Regions from separate parts of the Homo sapiens genome. Here all the other regions are linked to region 5. The links come from fine-mapping of genetic effects on gene expression. A gene starts in region 5. Each other region holds a variant in brackets. All regions are shown on one strand. Distances are from middle to middle.

Region 1 (5,098 bases), 170 kb before region 5:
CTAGTCCCTCCCTCCTCCCTGACCACTGAGCCCACCAGTCCTGTGGGATCAGGCCAGGCCTCCTCACCCCGTGTCTTCTCACCATGCCTCTTCCTCGCCCCATCAGACTGAACTGAGCCTAGGGAGGGACCGAGGCGTCTGCATCCACCTTTGAGCACCAACGCCTTGCTGGCAGGGAGGCTGAGTGGCAGCCCTGCTGAGTTTACTGTCAGGAAAAGGGCCACCTCTGTTCAGACCCCGGCCTACCTACATGCAAGGGGGAATCTCAGGAGATCTTTCTCAAGGCCCCTGTGGTTCCCGACTTCTATGAACCCAGGAGGTACAACCATTCTCACCTCCCATTTCTTAGTAGCAAAATATTAAAAGTTCTATTTAGATTTTCAGCCAAAAAGGGGAATTTTTCTAGCCAGAATGATTACATTGACAACCCAGGATATGTCAGTTGTTCACAGCTCTGGTCCCCAGACCTGGGAGAGCCTCAGAATCACCTGCAAAGCTTTCTTCAAACCCAGGCTCCAGGGGTCCTGCCCACACCAATCAGTATCAGAATCTCCAGGGGTGACGCCCAAGAACTGGCTTTTATTAAAAGCTCTCCAGATAATTCTCACTTAAAGATTTCCCCCGGTGGCTGAAAAAGTCCGATTTTCTTATATTCTGTCCCCAGGATTTGGGAGGAAGGTAAGAGAGAATCATGTGGGAGGCAGGGAAAGGATGTGCACAGTGACTCAGTCTGCATGGAGATCCCAGGACAGTGACAGCTGAACAAACCCTTACCAACACGCTCGTCCCGCGCCGGCCCAAGTCTCCCCCGGCCTCCTGCAGGCGCACAGACCTCATCCGCTCCAGCTTACGCCTGCGGGTGGCATCCGACTCGCGGCTGACGTCCTGGGGCCCCTTGCCCTGCCGGGCATGGGTCAGTAGCATGGCAGCCAGCTCACTGTCCACGTCCGCCAGCTTCTGTGCTTGCACCACGTGTTTTCCTGCGAAAGGGTCAGAGCGCGAGTCAGGTAGACGTGCAGTGTCTGCCTTCCAGGAGCAGACACCAGGGCAGGCCTCCCAGGACCACCTATATAGGGAGGGAGCTCAAGAGTGCGGCTCATGCTTTTTGCAGCTCCAATCTGCAGAGTTCTGAGATCCAGATAAAGATGATAACTTTATACCCTGGTTTCCACAGCATCCCCTCCTTTCCTCAGCCTTCAAATTAAAAGCAATTCTGACTCTGGCCCTTAGATCCAACGCTGTCAACACACCACCAGGGGGTTTTCTAGGGAAGAAGGCCACGTTCTAGAAGCCCATGCTCTCGGGATCTTAAAGGGCCCACTAATGCCTTCACCCAGGGCTGCTGGCCTCAGCCCCTCGGATCAGGAATGGGGGTAAGGGGTTGTCCCCTTGGCAGGAGGCCTTCAGTGAGTGGGGGGCAGGCGATGAAGCTCAGAGCAGGCCTGGCCCCCAAGCTCCTGCTCTCAACTCCATCCCAGCTGACCCTGGACTGCCTGGCCCCCAGGACAGCCCGCCTCCTCTGGGGTGGCCCTACTCAAACCAGGGACACACAATGACTCATTTAGCAAACCAACAGAAGCTGAACAGGGTCAAGCACTGGCAGGCAAAGGCTCAGCCACTACTGGATGGGCCAGGCCCTTCCTTCCGACACAGAGCAGGGGCTTGGGGTGTCGGGCGGGGCTGTGCTGGGTGACCAGGCCACGCCAAAGGCTGACACATGAGGCTCCCAGAAAATCGCTCAGCCCGGCACAGGCAGGGCAGCTGAGAGGCGCCCCAGCTTACCAGCTTAGGGCCTGGGTCCTTCCTCACTCTCTGGCACCAGCAGAAACTTCCCACAGGAAACCAATGCCAGCCCGAGCTCTCCCAGCCTGGTTCCACTTGTATGGGGCATGGGCACCCCCTGCAGAAGCCTCCACACAGTGGACAGCAACGTGACCCCCG[C/A]CTCCTTCTCACAAGGAAACAGTGCCACTGTCAGGTCCCTCACCACCATCCAATTTTAACGCCGGCAAACTGCTCTGCAGATGCCCCGCGTGGCTCTTACAAGTCTCCGGCACAGGCCTGGTCTGAGCTACCTGCAGCCACGGCTGTGAGTGGAGGGACCTGGGGCCTGCGCAAGTTGGGGTTTATCATGAGCTCAAGTTTTCAGATTGCATCACCCCAACAAATACCTCTCGTGGTCCCAATGAAACCAGAAAGAAAGTTACAGAGTGACCGTGAAACTGCACTTGGGGTAAGGCACGAAGCACTGAGAACCTTCTTAAAATTTCGTGCAACTTGCTAATTGCAGAGCCTTGCCTCATGGGTGAGACATGTGCTTTTAAGGGACACCTCCTGTCCTGGTCCTGAGCAAAACAGGGTCTGGAGGATCACTGACCTCAGGGCCTCTGATTGTCTCAGCAAGGCCTTCTGGGTTCCTGCTCCCTGACAGCTGAGCTCCTGACCTGCTGCGCCTGGAGGCAGGGTTTTATCAATAACCTCAGCCTGGCTCCTGGAGCTCAGGGACTTCTCTCTAAGGAGCTGGCTCTCCACCGTACTCTAGGTGGTCTGTGGGACCAGCTGAGGATGAAGGGCACTGACCCCAGGGCAGGGAATCCAGATTCTAAGCCAAGTTCACCCCTTAGCCACGGCACTGGCCAAGTCACCTGACCTCTCTTCGTCTCAGTTTCTTCAAAATTACAATGAGGAAGCTGGCCCAGAACAACAGACTCTATCTGCCTGGATCATGAATCCCTTTGAGCCCCTCATGTCTGCTCCCAGGGAGAACATACAAGTTTACCCAGAGTTTCAGGGGCCTTGTGGGATCCTGGAAGCCTTGCAGGAGGGAACCCAACGGCCCCTCCCACCTCTAACTGCCCCTCCCACCTCTAACAAGCCACAGCTCCAAGGCCCAGCAACACACAAAAGCGCACGGCAGCTGTGAATTCACACAGATGATCTGCAACCTCTGGGGAAAATGCTCCTTAAAGAGCACTTCCCACTTGTAATTCAAATGACAAGTACTTTATACTCAGGTCTGTGAGGCCTTACATTTTAAGGGGATAGAAAAACTTCAGAGCCTCCCTGCTGTGAAACACATTTTCACCAAACCCAGGTCTTCCTCTCCAAACCAGGTCTTTCTTTCCCAAGCTCCATAATTGGCTTCTTTCTTCTGTTCACAACATAGGGTACTTCAACTTGTTTTGAAAATCAGTCTATGTTCCTCCTGACCTTCTCTCCATTTCTCCTTCCCTTGCAGATGAGCAGCCAACCAGACACAAATGCCACTGGCAGGGTTCCCACTTCTCCAAACAGCACAGTCGCCTGCAGAGCCCAGCCTAGAGCACCAGGGTGTGATCAATGTGGTGGCTCGGTGGGGCCTGTGGGTCCACAGGGGCATCTAGCCAGGGCACCGAGCTGCATATGGACAGCACAGTCCTGCCCTAGATGCAGATGGGCATTAACAGCACCACGAATGGTGCGCACACACACACACACACGCAAACACACACACACACGCAAACACACACACACACGCAAACACACACAGACACGCACACAGACACGCACACACACATGCACACACAGACACGCACACGTGCACACATGCAGCCTTCCACCTCTCACACGCCATTCATGACCCACCTGCACATGGACAGCACAGTCCCGTCCTAGACGCAGAGGGGCACTGACAGCACCACGAATGGTGCACACACACACACATGCACACACGCATGCACACACACACACACGCAGTCTTCCACCTCTCACCCACCACTCACGACCCACCCACACATGGGCCCAACAGTGTAAACTCACGCCTTGAGCTTCCAGTCGTGAGGAGGCTGCCTCCAGAGAAGCGGCTGGCTCCATCGTTTGAGATGACCCGAGATCTGGACGGTGGCAATGTGCTACAACCTCTCACTTTCTGTTCACACGGGTGACCTACATGAAAAACATCCCAACATAAGACATGAACCCCAAATGAGAATCTGATGAAACAGATCAACCCACCACATAAGCGGCTGTGGCTTTCAAATGGCCTATCTACACCCTGACACGCTAAGGCCCCACCGCCTCTGTTTTGAATGTTTTGCAATTGAGAGACAGGTGGGAGCTCGTTCTGCTGCGAACTTTCAGCTAGGTCTTCATTCTCCTGCCGTGTCAGTGGCAGCCTCCGTTTCCTGGTGACGAATGAAAGCGTGTGGCACTCACAGTTCGCTGCACATGGATTCTTACTTCTGGATCTCTGGGTCGCAAGGCGGGCTGCCTCACAAACTCTAACCTCGGCCTCTCGATGGCCACATTGATCAAGGATAGGCCTGTGTGCATTTACACGTGCAAATGTCTGGCTCCACACACACCCAGGGTGAAAGAGCCCCCATAAACTGGAGCCTTCACCAGAGTTGTGTTCATAACAGAAGGCTTTGGCAAGCAAGTGGTGTGGCCTCGGGACAAGCGTGTCTCACGGCCGGTGGGTGTGGCACCCTACAAACTTGCAACTTGCAAACCTGAGTGTCCTGGGGGAAGCCGTGCTTGCCCACGGCACACTCTCCTGCAAGGATGGGACCCACAACCTCGGTGTGGCCTTTACTTCCCCAAGGGGCGAGGCAGAGCACCGCCAACGAAGCTGTGTCCCAAAATGAACCACCCAGGGTACGCACAAAATGCTTGTGCCATCAATTTCCTTAATTCCGACGAGGCAGTGTTGAGTGCCCTCGGGCCTGGGATGTCCTCACCATTTTCCCGGGAGCTGTTAAAAACGGGAACCCCTTCCCCTGGGCTTCCTGCCTCTCTGCATCCCTTCACTCCTGCCTACCCTCAGCCCTAGGGGAGGGAGGGACTTCCACACTGGCCAGGTCCCTCCTTGGCTGCAGCAGATCCACCTGCTGCGCCAGGTTCCTTCCCCTCTTGCCCGTCAGAAGCTGCTGTTTTCAAGGACGAGCCCAGTGCTGGGAGCACGCCCACGTGCAGGCACCTGTGGAGGTGAGCCATATCCTCCGTCCAACCCAGGTTCTCCTGGTGACAAAACCAGAGCTGGCTGACGGAGGTGTCTCTCTAGAATGGGTCTGAGCTGAGGCTGGAAAGGGAGTGCCCGTCCTACCAAGGGAGCCAGGCAGGT
Region 2 (5,098 bases), 190 kb before region 5:
GTGGGCTTATCCCCATGGTGCCCTCAGGGTCCTGAGAGCTCAAGAGCAGAGCAGCAGGCAGAGTGGGCCGAGCCCAGGCAGGGCACCATGCCACCCCCGCCGCATCCTAGTCATCCTAGCCCCAGGGGTAACACAGACCCCACCATGATGGGAGACTCCATAGAACACCACACCTACATTCAGGACTTATCCCAGGAAATGTCTCCCCTAGCCAGGTGCCCGGCAGCCCTCTCTAGGAGGCACCACCACAGAAGGAAGAGCCAGCCACGTGGGCGATTCCAGGCAGAGTGCAGAGAAGGCCCTCGCTCTGGCTAGGAGTGGCCTGCATGGGCTGGTGGGGGAGGCTGGTGGCAGCCAAGGCCGACGGGAGGGGATTCGTGGACTGTCAGGCAGCAGAGGACTCCAGGCAGGGGGGCAGCTGAATTGGCAACATTCAATTCTTCCAGGAATATTCTTGGAGAGCCTCTGGCAGGGAACAAAGACAAACTCCATGTGTGGCAGGCGGACAGACATGAAGGAGCTGAGAGGTGCTGTGGAGAACGGGAGTCCCAGGGAGGGTGATTTGGGGAGTGGGATGCAGGGGAGGCCTCTCAGATGAATGGGCAATCAAAGCTCCTTCCCCACTGAGGCCGGGGAGTGAGCCACGTGGCTACCTAGGAGAAGAGCATTCCAGGCAGAGGGAAAGGCATGTGAATGCCCCGAGGTGCAGCCTGCTGGACACATTTGACAAGCAAGGAAATGTGTGGCCAGAGCCACAGACCAGGGGAGGAGTCAGCAGAGGGGAGGTGGGAGCAGTGGCTCGGGCTTGGGGCCATCCCATGGACTCCAGCTGAATGATGTGGGAGCCACTGGAGGTCCTGCCTGGACTGGTGTGTTCACAGGGTGCTGTGTCTGCCATGGGGTGGGGGGATGGCAGGAGACAGTCAGGAGCCATGGCAAAACCTCCAAAGACAGCAGCAGGTGCAGACCACCAGGAGGCTGATCACCAAGGTGTATTTTTGCTGAGCATGGTGTGCAAATCTCCAGCAGGATCAAGAATGACCCAGATGAGCCCACATGGCCAGCTCTCCAGCCTGTCCAGCAACCAGGAGCATCTTCCTGAAACTGCACTTGCTTAGGCTGCACGAGGGCCCAGCTCTGAGCAGAGATGTCTCCTCTCGAAATCTCACCCTTTTGCAGGCCCTACACCTTGAGAGTCTGGGGAAAGCTACGGATCCTCCCTCCATGAAAATTCCTCTGCACACAGAATTCTGCACGTGATTTCACGGGTTTCAGAGACTCCTGACTGAAAGGGGAAAGGATGGGAGATCCCCCTGTATTAGTCCATTTTCACGCTACTGATAAAGACATACCCAAGACTGGGCAATTTACAAAAGGAAGAAGAGATTTAATGGATTTACAGTTCCACGTGGCTGGGGAGGCCTCACAAGTAGGATGGAAGGCAAGGAGGAGCAAGTCACGTCTTACATGGATGGCAGCAGGCAAAGAGAGAAAGCTTGTGCAGGGAAACTCCCATTTTTAAACCATAAGATCTCGTGAGACTCATTCCTTATCACGAGAACAGTGCAGGGAAGACCCACCCCCATAATTCAATCACCTCCCACCAGGTTCCTCCCATGACATGCAGGAATTGTGGGAGTTACAATTCAAGATGAGATTTGGGTAGGGACACAGCCAGACCATATCACCCCCTTTCCCCACAGAGGAGAGCACAGGGGAGTCTGGTGCTTCCTCAGGGCCCGTGTGCACAGGGCCCCACATCACCCAGCTCCTGACATGGCCAGCAGCATCCGGCCAGTGTGCAGGCGATGGCTGTGTGGCGAGGCTGGGATCTCCGAGCCTGTAAGTGTCCACAGGCTGTCTTTGTTCTGCCTGCATCTCACTCCATGACAGCAGTGGCCCCTCAGGGGCAGGGATAGTAAAGGAACCAATGACAGACATGGCATCTGCTCTTCTTCTGGGGGTGGAGGCAGAGAGGTGAGTCCAC[G/A]AGGAGACCTCAGCCACCCTGTAGCACACGCCACCCCTTCCAAGCTCACTTCAGACCTTGGTGGGTGTGGTCTGCCCAGCATTCCCCCATTCCCCCAACCCCCTTCTTCCCTAACAGCCCCCAGGGAGCAGCCTCCCCCAGGCTCTCTAACCACTCCAACCAACCCTCCTGCTCCGGGGCTGGAAAGCCAGAGCCACAGGTTCAGGGCTGGACATATAACTTAGCCAGAGAGAGGCACAGAGTAAAGCCTGGGCCCTTCACTCCAGAAAAACATAACTAGGAGTTTGAAGCTAGCACTGTCCTTGCACTGAGGGGAGAGCCTGTCTGAGAGCAGAGCTGACACCGAAAAGGCAGAGTAAAACCATGGAGGGGCATGGGCTCCTGGCAACAGAATCTGAGCAACTGGATCCAGCCATGCCTGAAGACGGAGTTTCCCCAGAAGGTATGAGAAACCATCACAGCTGCCTTCTGGCTTATGCTGGTTTGAGCTGGGTGTCTGTCCCTTGCAAACAAAAGGCGCCCAATAGCATTGGTCCAGTGAAAGTCCAACAAATCCAGTGTGCAAACAGAGGACCAGTTCATGTGAGCTCCCAGCAAGCAGAATTAAGGTGGACATTTTAAATGATGAATCATTTAGGGGACCACTGTGGGGGGTCAGCAATGTGAACAGAAGCCTGACAGCTACCCTCGAAAATCCCAAATTTCATAGCCCACTGCACAAGGCTGACCCCTCCCCTGTCCCGAACTCCCCACAGACACGGGCCAGGACTCGCTGCACGGGGAGCTGCCCACGCGGCACCCTGACCCTGGCACTTGCTCTTGTTCCAGAGGCAGAGGGAGAGCACTGAGAGAGGACGCCACCCACCCCGGAGCCCAGAGAATCGGGGCACCTCCATGCAGGGCCCAGCCACATGGAGCCTCCCGCAGGCTGATGGCCCAACAGAGGGAGGACAGGGTCCCCCCAGGAAGGAAGGCTGGCTTGGCTGGAGAAGAGAATGCTAATTAAAGATCCCCCATTCTCAGCTCCCTGCAGAGACAGGACCCTATGGGCAGAGGGAAAAGGCCTGCTGAGGCAAGGCCGGGTCACTTCTGTCCACATCCCATCGGCCACACCCGCAAGCCGCAGGTGGACACCCCTCCCATAGCGACACTGCCAGTCAGATGGCGTTGGGCAGGAGGGGCAGCAGATGATCAGGGACAGTCCTGCAGCGCACCACAGGGGACCTGCTGCACCCAGCTCTTACCTGGTCAGCTCAATGCACCTTCATGGAGGAGACCAAGGCACAGAGAGGCTTCAGAAGCAGGAAACAGCCCAGCCCTGCGCCCTGAGCAGGGCGAGTGGTTAGAGAGGGTGGGATGGAGCCAGGAGAGGATGGGCCTGCAGGCCCCAGAGAGGATCCTTGCCTGCGTCCTACCCTCTGAAAGGTTTACGCAAAAGAGGCGACAGGATCAGGTCTGTGTTTCCTGACAGTCGCAGCAGCTGCCATGAGCACTGGATGAGAGGGCGGCGTGAGGGCAAGTGAAGCCCGGGGTGGCCCAGGAGGGTAGTGTGGACAGCACTGACCCTGGTACCAGGGCCCCACATGCCTTGGAGACCACACTCCTTCCCTCAAGCCCCTACTAGCTGTCTCAGAACCTGGGTCCGTGTTGAGTCACACACACAGGGGCTGTTGCTTCTTTCCCTTAAATGTGGGTACAGCCCCCACCTAGAGGTTCTGCCTCCAGGAGAAACTCACACTGGCGCGTGGCTATTTCAAGGTTGAATTCTTGTGATAAAGTTTACCTTGAGAACCTGGAGTCCCTACTCAATTCAGGACGGCTGACCAGCCAGGATGACGCGGCTTCTTCGTGGCCAAGGACGGCCACCCAAGGGGCTTCTCTACACGCACCAAGGGCCACCCTGTCGATGGGGTCACTCCTTAGACTTACACCAGACCTTCTCTCCCCAGCACTAGGGACCTTCATTTGCTAATTATGTGACTATTTAGGACCTCCAGGGAGCTGCAGGTCCCACGACTCCTATGTTCGCTTCCTGAGGCTGCCGTAAACAACTGCTGCAAAGTTGGTGACTCACAGCAGCAGGAAGTTATTCTCCCACAGCCCTGGGAGCCAGAAGGCTGAGATCAAGGTGAGGGCAGGGCAGGTTCCCTCTGGAGGGTCGGAGGGAGAATCTGTCCCAGGTGTCTCCAGCTTCGGTGGCTCTGGTAATCCCTGGTTTGTGGCTCTCTCTAGCCTCTGCCTCTGTCGCCACGGAACCATCTCTACGTGTCCCTTTCTGTCCCATACGGACACTCTCCCTGGGCTTAGGGTCACCCCAATCAACATGACTTCATCTCAAGCCCTCGTTTCATCTGCAAAGACCCTCTTCCCAAACAGCCGGATTCTGAGGTTCTGAGTGTATGTGAGTTTTGCAGGGACAGTATTCAACCCCTGAAGTTGGGGTGACTGTTCCTCAGTCATCCATTCTCCCACCAGCAAGGGGTTTCCCAGGACCCCCTCGGAGAGGTGAGGGGTAGTGTTGAAACCCAGGGGCCTGGCCCGAGGTGGATCTGCCCAACCTGCAGAGAAGCTCCCGGGCGCTGCACAGCCTCCTGTGGACCCGCTCAGGCGTGGTTTTGGCTTGGGGTCAGGAGAGCCAGTGGGGCCCACGTGGCATCACCAGCGGAGTGCGGCAGGTGGAGCGCCAGCGTCCTCCAGGCAGGAAGGGTCTACATTCTTCATTTCCCGTCTGTAGGGTGGCATCCTGCACAGGGCCAGAGAGACCCACTGTGCTTGGGCCGTGCGAGACAGCGACCCACCTGAATACCTCCCGTGGGCACGCCACCAGCTGCTCCTGAGCCCTCTGTCTCTTTCTCTGTCAAGGCCTCAGCGCACCTCCCGGTAAGTGCTACCCGAGGTTGCTGGGGTGAGAGCGGCAGCGCCTCCGTCCACAGGAGAAAAAGCGGTCATCAGGGAAGCAATAATGGCTGTTTCCCCACCCTCTTAGAACCTGAGGCAACAATTTTAAAAAGTGTCTTATTTCTAAATACAGACAAACATAGCATTAAATCATTATCAAACATGAGAAATACAAAGCAGCTCATCTGGCTTGCATTTGACTCCATTTAGTGA
Region 3 (5,098 bases), 48 kb after region 5:
CCTATGAGAACACCTTGCAAGTGAAGGAAAAGCAAAGTGGTGTTGGAGCCCCTCGCCCCCAGCCCCCCATCCCCTCGTTCCTCCTTCCTCCCGTGCATGGCCCCCACCCCTGGGCTTGCACTGCTGAGCTCCGCGGCGGCCGGGGGTCCTCTTGATCTGAGGATGCTGTGATCCCCACCTGGAGCCTTGACCCTGGATGGTGCCATGGGAAGGGTTGGGGAAGACCAGGTTTCCACAAGGAGCAAAGCCATCAGGGACCCCAAAACACGCGGCCCCCCACCGAGTCTTAGCTCCTCCATGGTTTATGTTTGCTAAGCTCCTGTCTCTCCTGGAGGCAGAGATCACCTGGCTTGTCACGCTGCCCCGTCCACAGCACGCTGCTCCTCGGACGGCATGCTGGCTGCGTGTCCCCTCTCACCAGGTTGCCAAAGCGCTCCATCAACGTGGAATCATTTTCCTCCTGAAAGAATAACCACAGGAGCCGGCAGCCTTCTGAAACCAGGGGGTGGCCTCTGGCCACGCACAGTCTCTCTGCCCTCCCCACAGCTAACGGCCCCAGGACCCCACCCCAAGGGCAGGTGTCGATCTCCCTGGGCCTGGGCCCCTGTCTGCCAACTGGTGCTGCCACCTGAACCCCCATGTATTATTTGTGATGCGGCAGGAGATGCTGTGAGTTTTGGCAGCAGCTAGAAGGATTCAGTCTTCCTACTTCCGTTCAACCCCATTAAATATTGAGGTGAAGGACAGTTGTCCCTAATTGTCCCTGGGTCTGGGGCCACTGATATCACACTTGGGCACAAGTGCAGGGTGCTCCCTCATGTGGGCTCCCTGTCCAGCCTGCTTCTGCCCAGATCCTCCAGGGAGCCCAGGGGCCTTTGCCTAGGACTCCCCACCTCAGGACAGCCAGAGGCTCCTGCCCCGTCAGCCCCGTCTCTCCATCACTGCATGGAAGGGGCGCCGCAGGGCAGCATGCGGTTTCACTGGCTGGGACCTTGGAGACCTGAGACAGCTGCCGGGGAGGGAGAGTGAGGGAACGGGGCTGGCCTTGGGGGCCTTGGCTTCCCTCTGTCTGGCATGTGGACCTAAGCCTTGGCTGAGAAGAATCGGGAACTGATGCTGCATGCTCACAGGTGCCCCGAGAGTGTTTCTAAAAAACCACAAGGCCGGGCAGGCCAGGAGCCCGGACCTGGGCAGGATGTAGTCAGAGATTCTCCTGGGACCCTCTAGGTTCTCCTCAAACTTTCCCAACCAGGCACTTCCTGAGGGTCTATCGGAGTTGGCAGTTAAAGCAGGTGGCCCAGGGAGGTGGCCCAGAGAGTTCAGACTCCCTCCCAGATCTCCACCCCCAGGAGGGGACAGAGAGGATTCCCAGGAGCTACAACCTCTGACCTTGGAAGTAAGCAGAGAGCAGGGCTGGGCCTGCAAGCGTGGAAGCCAAGGGTGGTTTGCCAGGGGTCCTGGGTGAGTCTGCCGAGACCACCACTCCAGAAACCCCAGTGGCCTCAGCTCTAGCCTTTAGGAGGCCCCAGGTTCTGCTCAGGGTGGACCTCAGTAAAGGGGCACTCAGGGAGCGACCCCCAAAACAGAAGTGGACGGGAAGCCAGCACTGCCACTTTGTGGCCTCGTTGCCATTCCAGGGGGGAGCCTGCAGAACAAACCCAGCATCTTCCATCCTTCCTTCCTTCCCATCAGCCCCACTCCCAGCATTTTCAGGACCTCAGCTTCCACGCAGCATGGGCAAAGGACAAGCAGGCACTGAGGGAGAGCCAGGGCTTTTCCAGGGTCAACGTTGTTGCTGTCTTTAGAAACACTTGCACTCCCACTCACTCCCACACTGCCTTTGGCGGTCGAACTTGCAAGCACTGTATCCGACCCGTGAGAAGCCTAGCGCCATAGTCCCTCGCCCTGCAAAGCTCAGAGGCTTCTGAAATTTGAAATTTCGACGCCAAGTTCTGTTTTTAAAATCACAATATCCCCATGAGGCTGAGAGGGAGCTATAACCAGCAGATTGCTGTGTCTCAAA[G/A]CCATGTTTGAATATTGGGAAGAATCCACTGTGTCGCTGGGGCGAGGGTCCCTCCTCTCTTCTTTAAAAGGCCAGCGTGAAGTCTCCGCGATTTCATCCTCAGGGCCTTAGGAGTCTCCGCCGTCCACGATTCAGGTTGTTCCCAGGGCTCATGGAGCCTCAAAACTGTCCTACTCCAGGCCCTGGCCCCTCACAGGAGGAGCACCCAGACCCCTGTGGCCCTGGGACCACCCCTTGCCAGGGGACAGGCGGGTTGGGACTCTGGCCTGGTGCTGGGCTGGTTTGAGAACCTGGGCCATGGTCTTACAAGGCTTTCCACGCCCACTTCTCAGTCTCCTGGACATGACAGGAAACATGAGCTCAGCCCCGAAGCCCTATTCTCCGGGACCATATGGCGCCCCAGGTCCTGCCACATCTCCTTATCCAGCCCACTCTCTGTTCCAATTAGACTTTGGAATAGCCCGAAGTAGGAGACCAGAAACGCAAAAACACATGTCCCTCCTGCCGCCAATCTGACTGTAACGTTCATGCATTCACCTGGTCCTTCCTGAGTGATCGGGGCCCTCGAATCTTCCCCAGACCAGAGAACCTCCAGTTCTAGAGTCCAGAGCCACATTCTTTGATTGTCCCCTCTAATCTACCATAGAAACATCACGGTCCATCCATAACCCATTTTTCAACATTTCCATAGGCCTGTAACCAGTCGGGGAAATTGTTTTCACGACCAACTTCTAGGATTGTGGTTCACTTTTCTCTTTCATCCCAAAAAACCCCTCCCACACCCAACTTCAGAGCCAGGAAGTACACTGCTTGCAAGACATCTTCGCAGCCCCTGTCCCTCCTCCCAGCGTCCTGCCTGTATTTGCAGAATGTCCCGAGGCTGGCCCTGAGCCCTGGCTGCCCCCCACCTGCGGTTTCCCTTTCTCTCACGACAGAGACCGTCCGCGCCATGACCCACGTCATCAACCAGGGGATGGCCATGTACTGGGGCACGTCACGCTGGAGCTCCATGGAGATCATGGTACGGTGGCCGCGCAGCATGTGTGTGTCCAGGCACAGACTCCCGGCACCGGCTGCGTATGGAGACCCCAAAGCTCTGGCGGGGTCTGTGCCTTTGGTCCCAACTGCACCGATGCCTGGGTGCTAAGGGAGGGACAGGATGGTGGAGTGTGGTGGTTATGTCTGTAGGCCTTGCAGACGGGGATTCTGCATGGATCCCAGCGCTGTGTGGCCCTGGACAAATGGCTTAACGTCTCTGAGCTTGTTTCCCCACCTGTAGAACACATCTGCTAGGTGAGCCCCCATGGGGCCATTCTAAGGAGTCCCTGAGAGAGCCAGTGTGAAGCTCTTAGCAGATGCCCTGGAGCTCAGCAAGCACTCTGGGGTGACAACACCGTCAGCTGTTTCCACTGGGCTCCTGAGACGTGCCCGGTGCTGTTAGGGTCAAGGGTTCCACAGGGACCCTCTCACATGCAATCCTCACCGGTGCCTTTACCAGGTGAGTGCCGCAGGCAGCCCATTTTTCAGATGTGGACACTGTGGCACAGAGAGGTTCAGTAACATGCCAAGGTCACACAGCTTGGGCCAAGATTAACATCCAGGCTGTGTGGTTCAGAGCCTGGGCTGCTCATAACTGGACCCTCCGGCCTGGGGGTCCCACCACCCACCTCCTTTTCCCAGCTCACCAGGGCCTGCCTGGCTCCCAGGGAAGCTATGAGTGTGAGCAGTGGGGAGCCCGGGCTGCAGCTGCTGGGCCAGCCTGCTCCGGGGACACCTTGGTGCCCTCTCCATGGCTGCCCCGGCAGCCTCCCGCCTGCTCACAGGCAAGGGCCCTCGGGGTCCCTTTCTGCCTTCACAGGAGGCCTACTCCGTGGCCCGGCAGTTCAACCTGACCCCGCCCATCTGCGAGCAGGCTGAGTACCACATGTTCCAGCGTGAGAAAGTGGAGGTGCAGCTGCCGGAGCTGTTCCACAAGATAGGTGGGCACCCTCGGGCCCCTCGCCCCGCCCCACCCCACCCCTGCTCTCGGGCCCAGGGCTTGACTCCACCTGCTTTTCCTCTTCAGGAGTGGGCGCCATGACCTGGTCCCCTCTGGCCTGTGGCATTGTTTCTGGCAAGTACGACAGTGGCATCCCACCCTACTCAAGAGCCTCCTTGAAGGTGAAGGAACAGCCTGGTGGGGAGGGACGGGCAGGGGATAGGCATTTTGGACGGGTGGGACCTTTGGGCCGACTGCTTTGGTGCTGGGCAGGGGTTCCGGGAGCTGCAGCTGTTCCCACCTCGGTCTGCTGGGGGCGGGCTCCTTGGCGTGAGAACATGGAGCCCCTCCTGGCCTGATCCCATGTGTAGAGGGGCTGCCCAGCCTGTGGCACAGGCCCAAGTGGAGAGGCCCTTTCACATCCCCCCCCCTGCCCCCACCACATCCCCCCATCTCTACCCCCTACCACATCCCCCACCTCTGCCCCCCACCACAGCCCAGCATTCAGAACTCTGAGACCCCTGGGCCTGGGCTCCGAGATGGGGGCTGCAAAGCCACATGGAGGTGACCCTGGGAGAGGCGCCCCTCCCCACCACACAACCTCTGAGTGGGGACTCAGGAGGGTCCCCAGACTGCAGGATCTGGAGAACAAGGAGCAGGCCAAGAAAGTCTGCCCAGCCAGCAGTCTCAGCACTGGGGCCCACAGCCCTGGGTTCCAGGGCAACGTGGCCTGGCCCCCGACTCCTCCCATCCCATGGCAAGGTCAGGGCCCCCCTCCAGGAGGCCCTGCAATCCTCTGGGGGGGATGGCCAGGGGAGAGAGCACTCCCCTAGGGCCAGGAGGTTCTTCTGGGCCACGGGTGGCAGCCGAGACCCCAGGCTGCCAAGTTTCCTAAGAGAAGGAAGGCCAGCACCTCGCCTCCTTGTCCTGACTTGGGGTTGGGCCAGCACCACAGTCTTTGCACTTCAGAGCCTGGACAGGCCCCGCTCATCCACCAGCCCGTGCCCGGCCCACTGCCCACTCTCCCCTACTTGAGAGGCCTGGGGCAGGGGCACTGCCCTGGCTTCAAGATGAGAAGAGCCCCTATGAGGGAGAAG
Region 4 (5,098 bases), 55 kb after region 5:
ATTATCCACGAGATTGATAGTATTTTGGGCAATAAACCCTACAGCAAAAAGGACTACAGATCCTAAGCCGCCCCCGCCCGCCTGCTCGGACAGTTTCCGTTCCCTCCTAGTCTCTGTTCGCTCGCTTAAGCTGTTTTGAAGCCAAGTGAAGAGTGTGGTTTGCATCCAAGAGAAAACACCACACTGTGATGTCATCGGGAAATGATCTCCCAAGTCGCTGCCAGACACCACCCACTGCTTCGCCGGACAATGTCGAAGTCCAGTCTGTGCCGGGGAAGGCACTGGTTAGGAAGGATGTTCAAACGGTCCCACCCAAGCCTGTCACCTCTGCTCATCCTCCAAGACCACCCAGCTTTCTCCCAGCCACAGCCAAGATTCCCAAAGTCAAGGCCCAAAGATTTCCAAGGTTCCCAAAGTCAAGGCCAGGCCAAGGCCTGGTTGGGTCCTTGGGGCGGGCAGGGCCAGCCTCTCCTCTGCTGAGAATCCCCACTTGGTGTAGGGGGAGAGGGGAAAGGGGTCTGGCCCATCGAGGGGCCCCTTCTGCCAGGGCCTTGGTTGCTGGGGCAGGGCCTCCCCACTGGGGGTCTTCCTCCACCTCCCACTTTCCAAGGGCTCCAGGAATCTGGGGCCTGACCACAGATTCCTCTCCCATCCTTTTCTGCTCCAACCTGCCCCACTGGGTCCCGGCAGGGGCCATGCCTACCAAGCTCGAGCTGGCCCTTGACCCCCACCCACCCCCACCCTTGCTGGCAGGGGCAGGGACCCCAGGGGGATTGACTCTGCAGTTTGGGAGCCACAAAAAGCGTAGCGGTGTGATTTCTAGCTCAGCCTCCCACCGTCTTCCTCCTACACACCAATGATGAGCCTCATGCCAGTGAGGCCCGGAGCGCTTGGGAGGGGTCCCAGTGGGGCAGGCCCCTCTGTCTGGCCACCCCTCTGTCCTGGCCCCGGAAGGCCCTGTGGTCATGTGCTCCTAGCTGCACGGTGGCTGCTGGCCACACCACGGCAAGTGGCAGCAGGGGCCGGCCCTGTGCACAAGGATGCACTCCTCTCGGCCCCTGTAGACTTTCTCTAAAGCCGCCCGCCAGCCCAGGCCGCTGCTCTGCACCGAGCTGGTGGGCTTGGGTTTTGTGGAGCGCATGCTTGGACCCTTTCAGTAAGGAAGGGTCTTTGGGGTTTTCTGTGCCCATGACTTGGGGGCTGCACCCCCACAGCACCCCCACAATGTAGGAAAAGACCTCAGGGAACCTCTCCCTGGAAAGACGGGCAGGGCTGGTTAGCCCCTCCCACTGCCTGACACCTGGGACAGGCTGGGCAGAGGGGAGAGAGGGCAGGACAGGCCAGAGTGACGCCCCCGTGCAGCTTGGGCCGGAGGGCAAGGGATGCCAGTAAGTCTGCAGGTGCGGGGTGCCACCTACAGGCCCAGGCCTGTGTCCCAAGCAGTACCCAGGCTTTGCAGACCACGCGGGGCAGGGCTCCACTGAAGCCACCCCCACCCCTCGCCAGCTAGCTCCATAGGGAAGCCTGTGTCTCCTGCCCCCAGGGCGCACCCTCAGTGCAGGCACCTCTGTTCCCGCTTTGCCCCTGGAGGAGCCACTATTCCAGAAGGCTCCACCCTGCCGTCCTGCGGGAGCCTGCTGTCCAGTCCTGGCCGGGCCAAGGCCTGGGAAACTGTGAAAGTCAGAAAGGCCAGCGGGGAGAGGCTGGGGCGAGGGGAGGAGGGGGATCAGCTTCTGCTATTACCGACCCCCCTTCATGCTGCCCCTGGCGCCTAGAACCCTTGCCCCTCCTCATAGACCAAGTCCCGGGGGTCTCCACTCAGTCCTGCTGCCTGCTTCACCAGAAGCAGCCCTGTGAGTGTGGGGTGGGGAAGTCCCTTCCCAACGGAGGTCCCAGCCTATGGCCCTGGGCCCAGGTGGGGGTCGCCTGCTTCCTTCCCGGACAGGGTCCTGCAGTGGCCAATGGTGCCAGAGGGCAGGTGGCCCACCCTCGCCATCAGGGAGGGTGGCTGGCCCCATCCCCACTGCCACCCAGCCCCACCCACTGTTGGAAGAGGGACCAGCGCGAGGTGGTGCCCAGGGTGGGCACTGCTGCTTAATGCGAGGCACACCTGGGGCAGCTGAGCCCCCAAAGGCTGCGGGTTTGCCAAACACAGAGAGGCCAGGCCCCAGTGTCAGGATGCAGTCAGCCTCTGGCGCAGCTCTTTCCACGACCTGGTTCCTGGATGTCCTGCTTGCTCCACACCCATCTACAGGGAGGATGTGAGGGGGCTCTGCCTCCTAGGGCCAGGTCCCCCCTCTCGGGAGGAGGTATTGGGTAGGACCATCCAAGAAAGGGCAGAAGACCAAGGGCAGTCGGGGTCTAGAAAGGAGGGCGCTGGCCCTGCTGGACGCTTCGGAGCCCCCACTGTTTCCCACTCAGCTTTGTGCTCAGATCCCAGGTCCCAAGGAGTGACAGGGGCTTCCTCCCACCTTCTGTCCTTGTCCAGTCATGTAAATAATGTGCTTTTTCTCTCCCCGAGTCTTTTTTTTTAAACCTACCGTGGTTCCTCAGCTAACTGCATTCCCTACCCAGGCAGAGACTGTCCTATGCCTCGAGCTTCCAAACGAGACTCAGACCGCGACACAGCCACCGTATTTATGGAATGACAAAATAAATAAAGCCCAAACCCATCGGTCTCTGTGACTTTTTGCTCCTCTCATTTCCTC[A/G]GGGTCAGGGCTGGGCCAGGGTGACACGGGAGGGGAGGAAAAGGCTGCCAGCAGCAGGGCCTGGGGCATCCCCCAAACCGGAGCCTGCAGCCAAGGGCAGGTGGGTTGGAAAGGGCCCGTGGAGAGAGAGCGGGGACAGAGAATGGGGACAGGGTGGTCAGAAGACCTGTCCCCCATCTCTCCCAAGCGATTCAGCCAAGGGAGGGTGCGTGCCTCCCCTGCCGCCCCCAACACACACATTCTCTTTCACCAACTCTGAGGGCCCAAAGCTGCTTGCTGGGAGGCTGCTGTCCCTCTGGGGACCTGGCTGGCTGCTGTTCTCATAAGGACAGAGGTCCAGGCCTGGGGAAGCTCTCATGGTATGTGTTTGGGGTACAGGTGAGAGGGGCCTCACCCCAGCACACCCCTGTTTCGGGCTCCCCTCCTTCCCAGTGAGCCCCTGCACCCGTGAAATGACCATCCCAGGCAAGAGAAGGCTTCCGGACACGCCCCCACCCCCCACCACTCCTCCCTGGCCCCAGCCCCCACCCCCATTCTAAATCTTGAATCTTAAAAAGAAAAAGCCTCTGATTAAATCCTTTCCCAAAGGATTTATTAAAACACAGAAAACCAAAACATACACACAGAGTACAAAGTAAAGGTGATTGTGTTGGCTACAGCCTCTGTCCAGCCTCCCGTGGGCGAAGACCAGACAAGCCACGGCTCACAGGGGAGCCTGGCTTCCAAAGCTGGACCCGCCCCCGCCGGGGCCACCCTGGCTGGGACTCCTGGCGCGCCTTGCACCCAGCCCAGGGCCCTCCCTTTGCCAGCCTGGGGCTGTGCCTGGGGAAAGGGGTCGGCCCCCTCTTAGCTGGGCCTGGGCCGGTGGAGTCTGCTCCCTCCACACCCCTGAACTCAGACCCCACGGGCCAGTGGGGACCCTCCCTTCCTCTCCAGGGGTGCTTGGGCTCCAATCGCTGCTTGAGGAGTTCAGGACACACACACACACCCAACGGGCCCTTTCTGGGTTATCGCACCTAAAAAAATACTTTGTTTAAAAAAAAAATCTGAAAATTAAAGAAAAAAAAAACACAACGCCAGTGAGTTTGGGCTGATGCACCACAACCTGTAAACTTTCAGACACAGAAAACAGGACAGGAACCAGCTGCCGAGGCCGAGGCGGGCCTTGCACAGAAGAGACTTGGGGGAGGGGCCGAGGCCAGGTCACCAAGACGGTGAGGGCAGAGGGGCGTGCCAGCCTCGGCCCCCACCCACGCCCTGTCCCCTGCCCACAGACCCTGACGCACACTGGAGGCTCCAAGTGACCGACACTTGACCAAGTCCATCTGGCTTCTGGCTCCCATGTACCCGAGCCCACTCTCCACTCCACCTCCTTGGGCCTCAAGTGTCCTGGGATGACAGGAGTGAGGGCTGCAGGTGTCACCGGGCCAAGGCTTGGTCAGCTCCTGACCTCGGCAGGGGAGCACCCGGGGGACTCTGGGAAGGCAGCCCCCAAAAGCAGGAGGACTTCAATCATAGGGGGCAGGGAAAGTCCAGCCTGCCCCTGGGGGAAGCCAAGTTTGCAAAAAACGCAGGAGCTTCGGAAGGTGGCTTTCACGGGGGACGCTGCTTCTGCCTCAGGCGTGTATGAGAGGGCCCTGCAGACGTGCTCACTCCACCCCGAGTCACCTGAGCCCATGGGGCAATGCCTTCCAAGACCTTGGCTCAAACATGGCTCTGCAGAAGCCCTACTCAGCACTGGCTTAAAGTGGCTGGAAATTTCCAATCGCAGACTGGCACTTTGGGCTCGCGTTCATGCCCGAGGACCCTGATTCTACCAGCAGCAAAAACCAAACCCAGCCCAAAGACGCCAAACATACGGACACCACCATCACCACTTTTGGCAGAGATGACTGACAAACCAAGAAGGACATTCTCAGATCTTTTCTCCTCTCCCAAACTGGTCAGCCCCAAACCCGCTCTGACTCTAGTAGCCCACCCCTCCCGGGCCCCGGGGTGCTGGCCACGGACAGCACCACCCCTTCTGGACCAGGCAGTGCAGGGGGCCCAGGCCCAAAGGAGCCCTGGCCAGGCTTTCCTGGGTGCCCGAGTCTAACCAGGCAGAGGAGAAGGGAGCCCTGGCGAGGCCTGGGAGGGAAGCAGAGAGGAAGGGACAGAGCAAGCCTGCCTGAGAGGAAGGCGCACAGGGGAGGGACCATCAGCCCTTGGGGTGGAGACACAGACCCCTGCCCTGACCGCCACAGGCCTCCAGTCCTGCTGCTCGGGACCTATCTGCTGTGGGCCAAGGAAGGTGGGCACTGCTCCCAACGAGGGCCAACCCCAGTGCTTGCCACTGCTTGTTTGGGGACGAGGGCACGGGAGTGAGCTTCTGACCCGAGCCAGGACCCTTT
Region 5 (5,098 bases):
ACGCAGCAATCAGCATCTCTTCCTTGCTCCCGTGTCTGCGGGTTGACCAGGCAGCTCGTCTAAGCTGGCTTGGCTGGGTTTGTCTCCAAGCTGCAAGTTGGATCCCCATGTCCTCCATCTTCCCATGCTTAACTGGGGCCTACCCCAGGCATGTCCTTCCCATGGCAAAAGTACCAGAGGAAAAGCAGAAACATGCAGGGTCTCTTACGGCCTATGGTTGGGGTCAGAGCGCTGTCACCTCTGCTCACGTGCTTTTGGCCAAAGTAAGTCTCAGGAACCAGCCCACAGTCAAGGGGCTGGAAATATATTGCCCCCACCAGTGGGAGGAGCTATAAAGTCACATGGCAAAGGGCATGGGTACAGAGAGGGGTGAAGGATTGGGAGCAATACTTCCATGTACCCCAGGTCTCAAATAGCCCTGATGATCTCCAGAAGGCAGAGCACGTCACAGGAGAAGCCCAAAGAGCATTTGGGGTCCAAGGAAGGAGGGGCCACAGCCAGCTGAGAGCCAAGAAGACTTCACGGAGAAGGCAGCAGGGGCTTGGATCTGGTCCTTGAAGGCTGGGCAGGATTCAACGCAGAGGCTGGGAAGCATATTCCAGTAGATACAACAGCCTGAGCCACAGCTCAGAGGTGTGCACAGAGAACAGGAAGTGACAGTTACCCAGCCTGGGCCATCAGGGACATGATGGAGAATAAAGAGAGGCTGGCTGTAGAGGTGGATGTTGGTGGGGGGCCTCGAATGCCTAGCGATGGGGCACAGATGCACTCAGAGGGCACTGGGGAGCCATCTATGGTGTTTGAGCAGGGCAGGGGTCAGAGATCTGCTCTAGGAAGGAAGCCTGGTAGCAGGGAGTAAGACAGGGAAGAGAGAGGCTAATGCAAGGAGACCAGACAGTGCCCAGGAAAGGTGCAGGACGGCTGAGCTCCAGGAACTGCACAGAGAGAGAATGAAGGGGTGCAGGGCCTGAAAAAAGGACGTCAGAAGCCACGTCCACAGGGCTTGGCCACTGATGGGCAGGTGCTGAGACAGAAAGGGACAGAGAGGAGCAGTGGACCCAGGGAAGGAGAGGGCCTCATTCGGAGCATGTTAGGCTGCAGCTACCACCCAGTAGTGAGGCGCAGGCCCCCCGACCAGGGCGACATGTGGGGATCTGACAGAGTGGGCTTGGGCCTTTGGGGACAAACCATTTCAATTGCCAAGGCCTTCGCAGCTAGTCACCCGCAGCCAGGCACCTCCAGACTCTACGTGCTCTCCCAGCCTCCCACTTCATTTACCTTCCACACTGCGACTGGGGCACTGATTTCCTGTCCCCCACCTTCCCCCATGGCAGCTACCACTGTTTGCTCATTCATCATGGGGGGACGGTTCTGCCTCCATTCAAAATCCCACATTCACTGGCGCGCTTTCTCAGCCGGAAGATGATGTCACGCTGGGACTTTGCTGGCATCCTGTGACACGCAGTGACCCTGGGGGTCATGACCCTGGGGTTGGGGCTCAGCACTTAGCCTCATCCCAGAGCTCAGCCTTGTTTGGCCTAGTCTCAAAGCATTTCCCAAACCCCAGGTCAGGACATGTGCCGTGGAGAAGGGCTCCTGTGTCCCTGCCTGGAGTGAGTGGCAGTGTGGAGTCCAAATAGCAGGTTCTGGGGCCTTCCTGCCATTTATAGCTACCGGTAGTATCAGATATACCCATCTCGGGTGTATCCCCAGAGGACAGGAGGAGCATGCGCGTGTGCTGAGCAGAGGCCTCTCCAGACCCCCTTGGCTGTGGGTGGTGGCCCCATACGACGGGGCCCCCAGCTCCCCTGCTGCAGACACAGTTCAGAGTTGAGTGGTATGCGGAAGCCACAGGCTCTGTGTCCCGCACTCAGATACCAAAGAGCAAGGCCTGCCCCTTTCGACCTGTGGGTCCAAAGGTTTGTGTTTCTGGCACGCGGGGATGGTGGAGGCAGCAAGGGTAGGCCTGAGGGACGGGCAGGACCTCCCCCTCACCTTGGGCTGCACCCCAACCCCACGCACCGGGAGTCAGCCTTGCCAGGTTGCAGCACGGAACTGCACTTCCCGAGCTTTTAGGGGAAGAGGCACTCGTGAATAATTCAGCCTCTTTCACTGAGATGAAAACGCCCTAATAGAACTAATGGACTCGCTGCCTCAAAACTCGACTCTGGTGGGACTCATCTCATTCACCAATTGCTTCTGACGTCCTGCAGTGACACTCCCTAATGAAAAAGCCGCTGTGCCAGATCCTTAGAGTGTCTGGTGATCCCTAATAAACCAGACTGTGGCCTTTTTAACGAGCAGACGCCCCCACGAAGGCAGGTGAGTCCTCCCTTCAGCCGCTACCTTCCTAGTGGAGATGCCGCTTGGGGGCACGCATCCGCGGGAATGAAAAATAACAGAGGAGACCATATTTTGGGGTGGTTTTGTCTGATCCGGAATTAGACCCTCCGTGTTTTTGCAAAGCAGAAGACCTTAAAAAAGAGCCAGCCTGAGGTAAACTTGGAATGACCGTGATGGATGGGGTGGTGGGCGGCAGGTTTCAGCCGGGCAGCACCTCTCGCTTGAGTCTGCTCACAGCCCAGACCTGCCCAAGGCTGACTGTTTTCCCATCTGCCGGAGACACGGGCGTCTAGCTCGTACCTCGCTGTGTTCACCATTGATTAAGATTCAGCATTTTCCAGTTTTGCCCAGAGCGCTGTCAGGGAGGTTTGGTCTTGTCTGAAATGTCTGTGCAGGAAGCACGTGCTGAGGGAGCCAGGGGCTGCTTGTTTGGGCCTCAGTTTGCTGATTGTCCTTGAGCGAAAATCATTCTGTGTTTGCACTGAAGCAATGCCGTGTCTTGTAGAGCCGCACCCCGGAATGGTAGCAGCTCCCCTTCCATTTCCGCTTTGGAGAACTCTGGCTGGGCTCTCTGCTCTCTGGACAGGTGTCACCATTCAGAAGAGATGCTCAGGGTTCCTTCTCAATCTCAGGTTGTATGCTTTGTTGGCTTTCAGTAAACAGAACAATTCAGAAATTCCAGGTAGAGGAGTCTGGGGTGAGGTAGTGATTCCTACTGACTTAATGAGGTTAACATCTTCCTTGCATTTTTCCATGTCACGGTGTTAATTCACGTGAATTCCCCTGGGCCCCTGATCTACAGGAATAGATTTGCACCAGGCAGGCCCAGCCCAGGAAAGAACTTGTGGGTTCCACGTAATTAGCAATGGCTATTGAGGAGGGGCTCGTTTTTCTTGGTACCAGGGTGGTGAGGGAGTGTCAGGGCTCAGAGACCCTCACTCTGGAAAGCGGCCGGGATTTGGGATATTTTGAATTGGAAGTCAGGGGTCACTGTGCTCTTGAGCACAGGAGAAGTGGGGACCCTGAGGCAGGAGCCCGGCAGTGGGGCCACTCTCTCCTCCCTGCAGTGTCTTACCGGGGGGCCCTTCGTCCAAGGACCTGACGCTGCTAGAGTCTCGGCAAAAGCCCAGAATAGAGCCCCAGTGTGAGGGAGTCCAGAGGTGTCCTCTGTCCCCAGGCACCGCTGGTAACGGGCAGAGCCTCTTTGCCTTCTGCCTGTACCTATCCTTCTTCCCCTGGGGCAGCCCTCCCAGAGTCATGAGCCTTCAGGACCACAGGGAGCCCCCGCTGTACAGAGTCCTGGCATGGGAGTCCCCCCCACACAAGAGAGGGTGACCTGCAAAGAGCTGCTGGGTCTGAGGTAGGAAGCCAGCCCCGCCCCCACCAACAGCTGCCTGGCACTGCCAGGAAATGCCCAGGTATAGCCCTGGTTGGCCTTTTGGAGCCTGGGCCTTGGTTACTGTTCTACAAATATCTGAGCCCCTCCTCTGTGCACGGGACACTCCCGTGGGCACTGGTCAGGGGGCAGTGGCAGCAGGCAGAAGAGTCCTTGCCCTCCTGGACCCAACCTTCAGGGGAGTCCAGCGGCCATGGGCTCCTCATGGCACCAGCCCTGCTCCTCACCCCACCACCCCATGCCAAAGGCTGCCATTTCTGTGCCCGCAAGTTCCCTGGCCCAAGCCCTGCCCTGGCACCATGGGGACAAGCTCGTAGCAAGAGGCTCTGGGCTCCCTCCGTGCCGCAGGGCTCCCACCTGCAGGTCTGCTCCCAGGGCTGCAACATGAGCTCTAAGGAAAGATTGCAAGCGGGCCCCCACAGGGAGGGACGCCCTCTAAATCCTGGCCACAAAACCCATTCTGTCCTGCCCTCTCTCCCCTCTCCCACTCACATCCCCAAACTCAGCCTTCCACCATCTTGTTGTGAAGGGGGCGATTATTCACATCTGTGTTCTCTTCCCTTAAGCATTTTCTAGGGAGATTTGGTGTCTGTGTGGCTCACTCCTCTCACTCAAACCTGTGGTCACAAGTTCCTTCCCGCCCTGCCTGCTGGCCCCTGGTGGTGGATTTTTCTTTCCACAGCATTTATCATAATTGGTGTCTTATCCCACGCCCCCCAACAGACTGTCTTCTGGCTGCGTCACCAACTCCCACCCAGTTGTCCAAAGCCTCATCTCATGCAGCCCACAGCAGCCTGGTACAACAGGCCTCTGCCCAGCCTACCTCACAGATGTGGAGGCTGAGGCCGGGAGCGGTCAAGGTGCCTGCCTGGGCCACACCATGAGCAGGTGACAAGCAGAGCTGCCCCTGTCCAGAAGCTGGGCACTCAGCCACCCCGTCCTCCAGCCCCGGGGCCTTGGCTATATTTCTAGAGCCAAACCAGACCCGGATTGCTTTTTGTGAGTAATGTCTTGAAAGCTAATGGCTATTGATCTCAGCCTGGTCGGGCCAGGCAGGGAACTTGCGTGTCTGAGGCTGGTCCTGCCTTTCAGAAAGAGCCCTGGGGCTACAGCCTGCCCAGCTGGCCTTCTTTCTAAACACAGACCTCAGGGAAGTGAGGGTTGGCCCCCATTTGCCCCACACCGGACTGGCAGCTAGCCACATGGCCACCTCAGAAGCAGCTGCCTGCCACGCGCATGGAGGGAAGGGAGTGGCCGGCCAGTAGGCAGGGAAGGGAAGCTGGTGCTGCTGTCTGTGGGTGCCAAGGGCCTCATTTCCTAAGGTGAACCTCTCCTGGAGTCCGGGCCTCTCTGCCCTCC

Alleles and levels. Positions count from the first base shown, and alleles are read on the strand shown. Sizes are in standard deviations (SD) of each study's normalised expression. Not every link is listed here.
For the expression in skeletal muscle of the gene that starts at base 2,027 in region 5, G is the high allele of the variant in region 2 and A is the other (small effect, 0.22 SD a copy in GTEx).

The links. PIP is the estimated chance that this variant, and not a neighbour inherited with it, causes the effect.
Region 1: its variant is the best candidate, but not a certain one, in a credible set for the expression of KCNAB2 in whole blood (TOPMed, PIP 0.51).
Region 2: its variant is the best candidate, but not a certain one, in a credible set for the expression of KCNAB2 in skeletal muscle (GTEx, PIP 0.81).
Region 3: its variant is the best candidate, but not a certain one, in a credible set for the expression of KCNAB2 in whole blood (INTERVAL, PIP 0.87).
Region 4: its variant is the best candidate, but not a certain one, in a credible set for the expression of KCNAB2 in whole blood (TOPMed, PIP 0.66).

The regions. Positions count from the first base shown.
Region 1 is chr1:5,876,319-5,881,416 of GRCh38, forward strand. It overlaps NPHP4 (nephrocystin 4), which reads right to left. Exons shown (of 30, transcript NM_015102.5): 19 at 3,796-3,921; 20 at 775-980. Among named protein-coding and RNA genes, the nearest start is that of MIR4689, 16 kb to the left of the region's middle. RefSeq lists an enhancer at 3,490-3,994. The variant C/A (reference allele first, on the strand shown) is at 1,942.
Region 2 is chr1:5,852,568-5,857,665 of GRCh38, forward strand. No RefSeq gene overlaps it. Among named protein-coding and RNA genes, the nearest start is that of MIR4689, 7.6 kb to the right of the region's middle. RefSeq lists enhancers at 480-1,324, 4,948-5,098. The variant G/A (reference allele first, on the strand shown) is at 1,988.
Region 3 is chr1:6,091,442-6,096,539 of GRCh38, forward strand. It overlaps KCNAB2 (potassium voltage-gated channel subfamily A regulatory beta subunit 2), which reads left to right. Exons shown (of 16, transcript NM_001199862.2): 11 at 2,959-3,044; 12 at 3,882-4,002; 13 at 4,089-4,183. Among named protein-coding and RNA genes, the nearest start is that of KCNAB2, 48 kb to the left of the region's middle. The variant G/A (reference allele first, on the strand shown) is at 2,024.
Region 4 is chr1:6,098,509-6,103,606 of GRCh38, forward strand. KCNAB2 (potassium voltage-gated channel subfamily A regulatory beta subunit 2) reads left to right here. Exons shown (of 16, transcript NM_001199862.2): 16 at 1-2,672. The coding sequence ends at 66. It overlaps CHD5 (chromodomain helicase DNA binding protein 5), which reads right to left. Exons shown (of 42, transcript NM_015557.3): 42 at 3,279-5,098. Among named protein-coding and RNA genes, the nearest start is that of KCNAB2, 55 kb to the left of the region's middle. RefSeq lists enhancers at 3,621-4,122, 3,992-4,161, 4,123-4,622. The variant A/G (reference allele first, on the strand shown) is at 2,709.
Region 5 is chr1:6,043,862-6,048,959 of GRCh38, forward strand. KCNAB2 (potassium voltage-gated channel subfamily A regulatory beta subunit 2) reads left to right here and starts at 2,027. Exons shown (of 16, transcript NM_001199862.2): 1 at 2,027-2,322.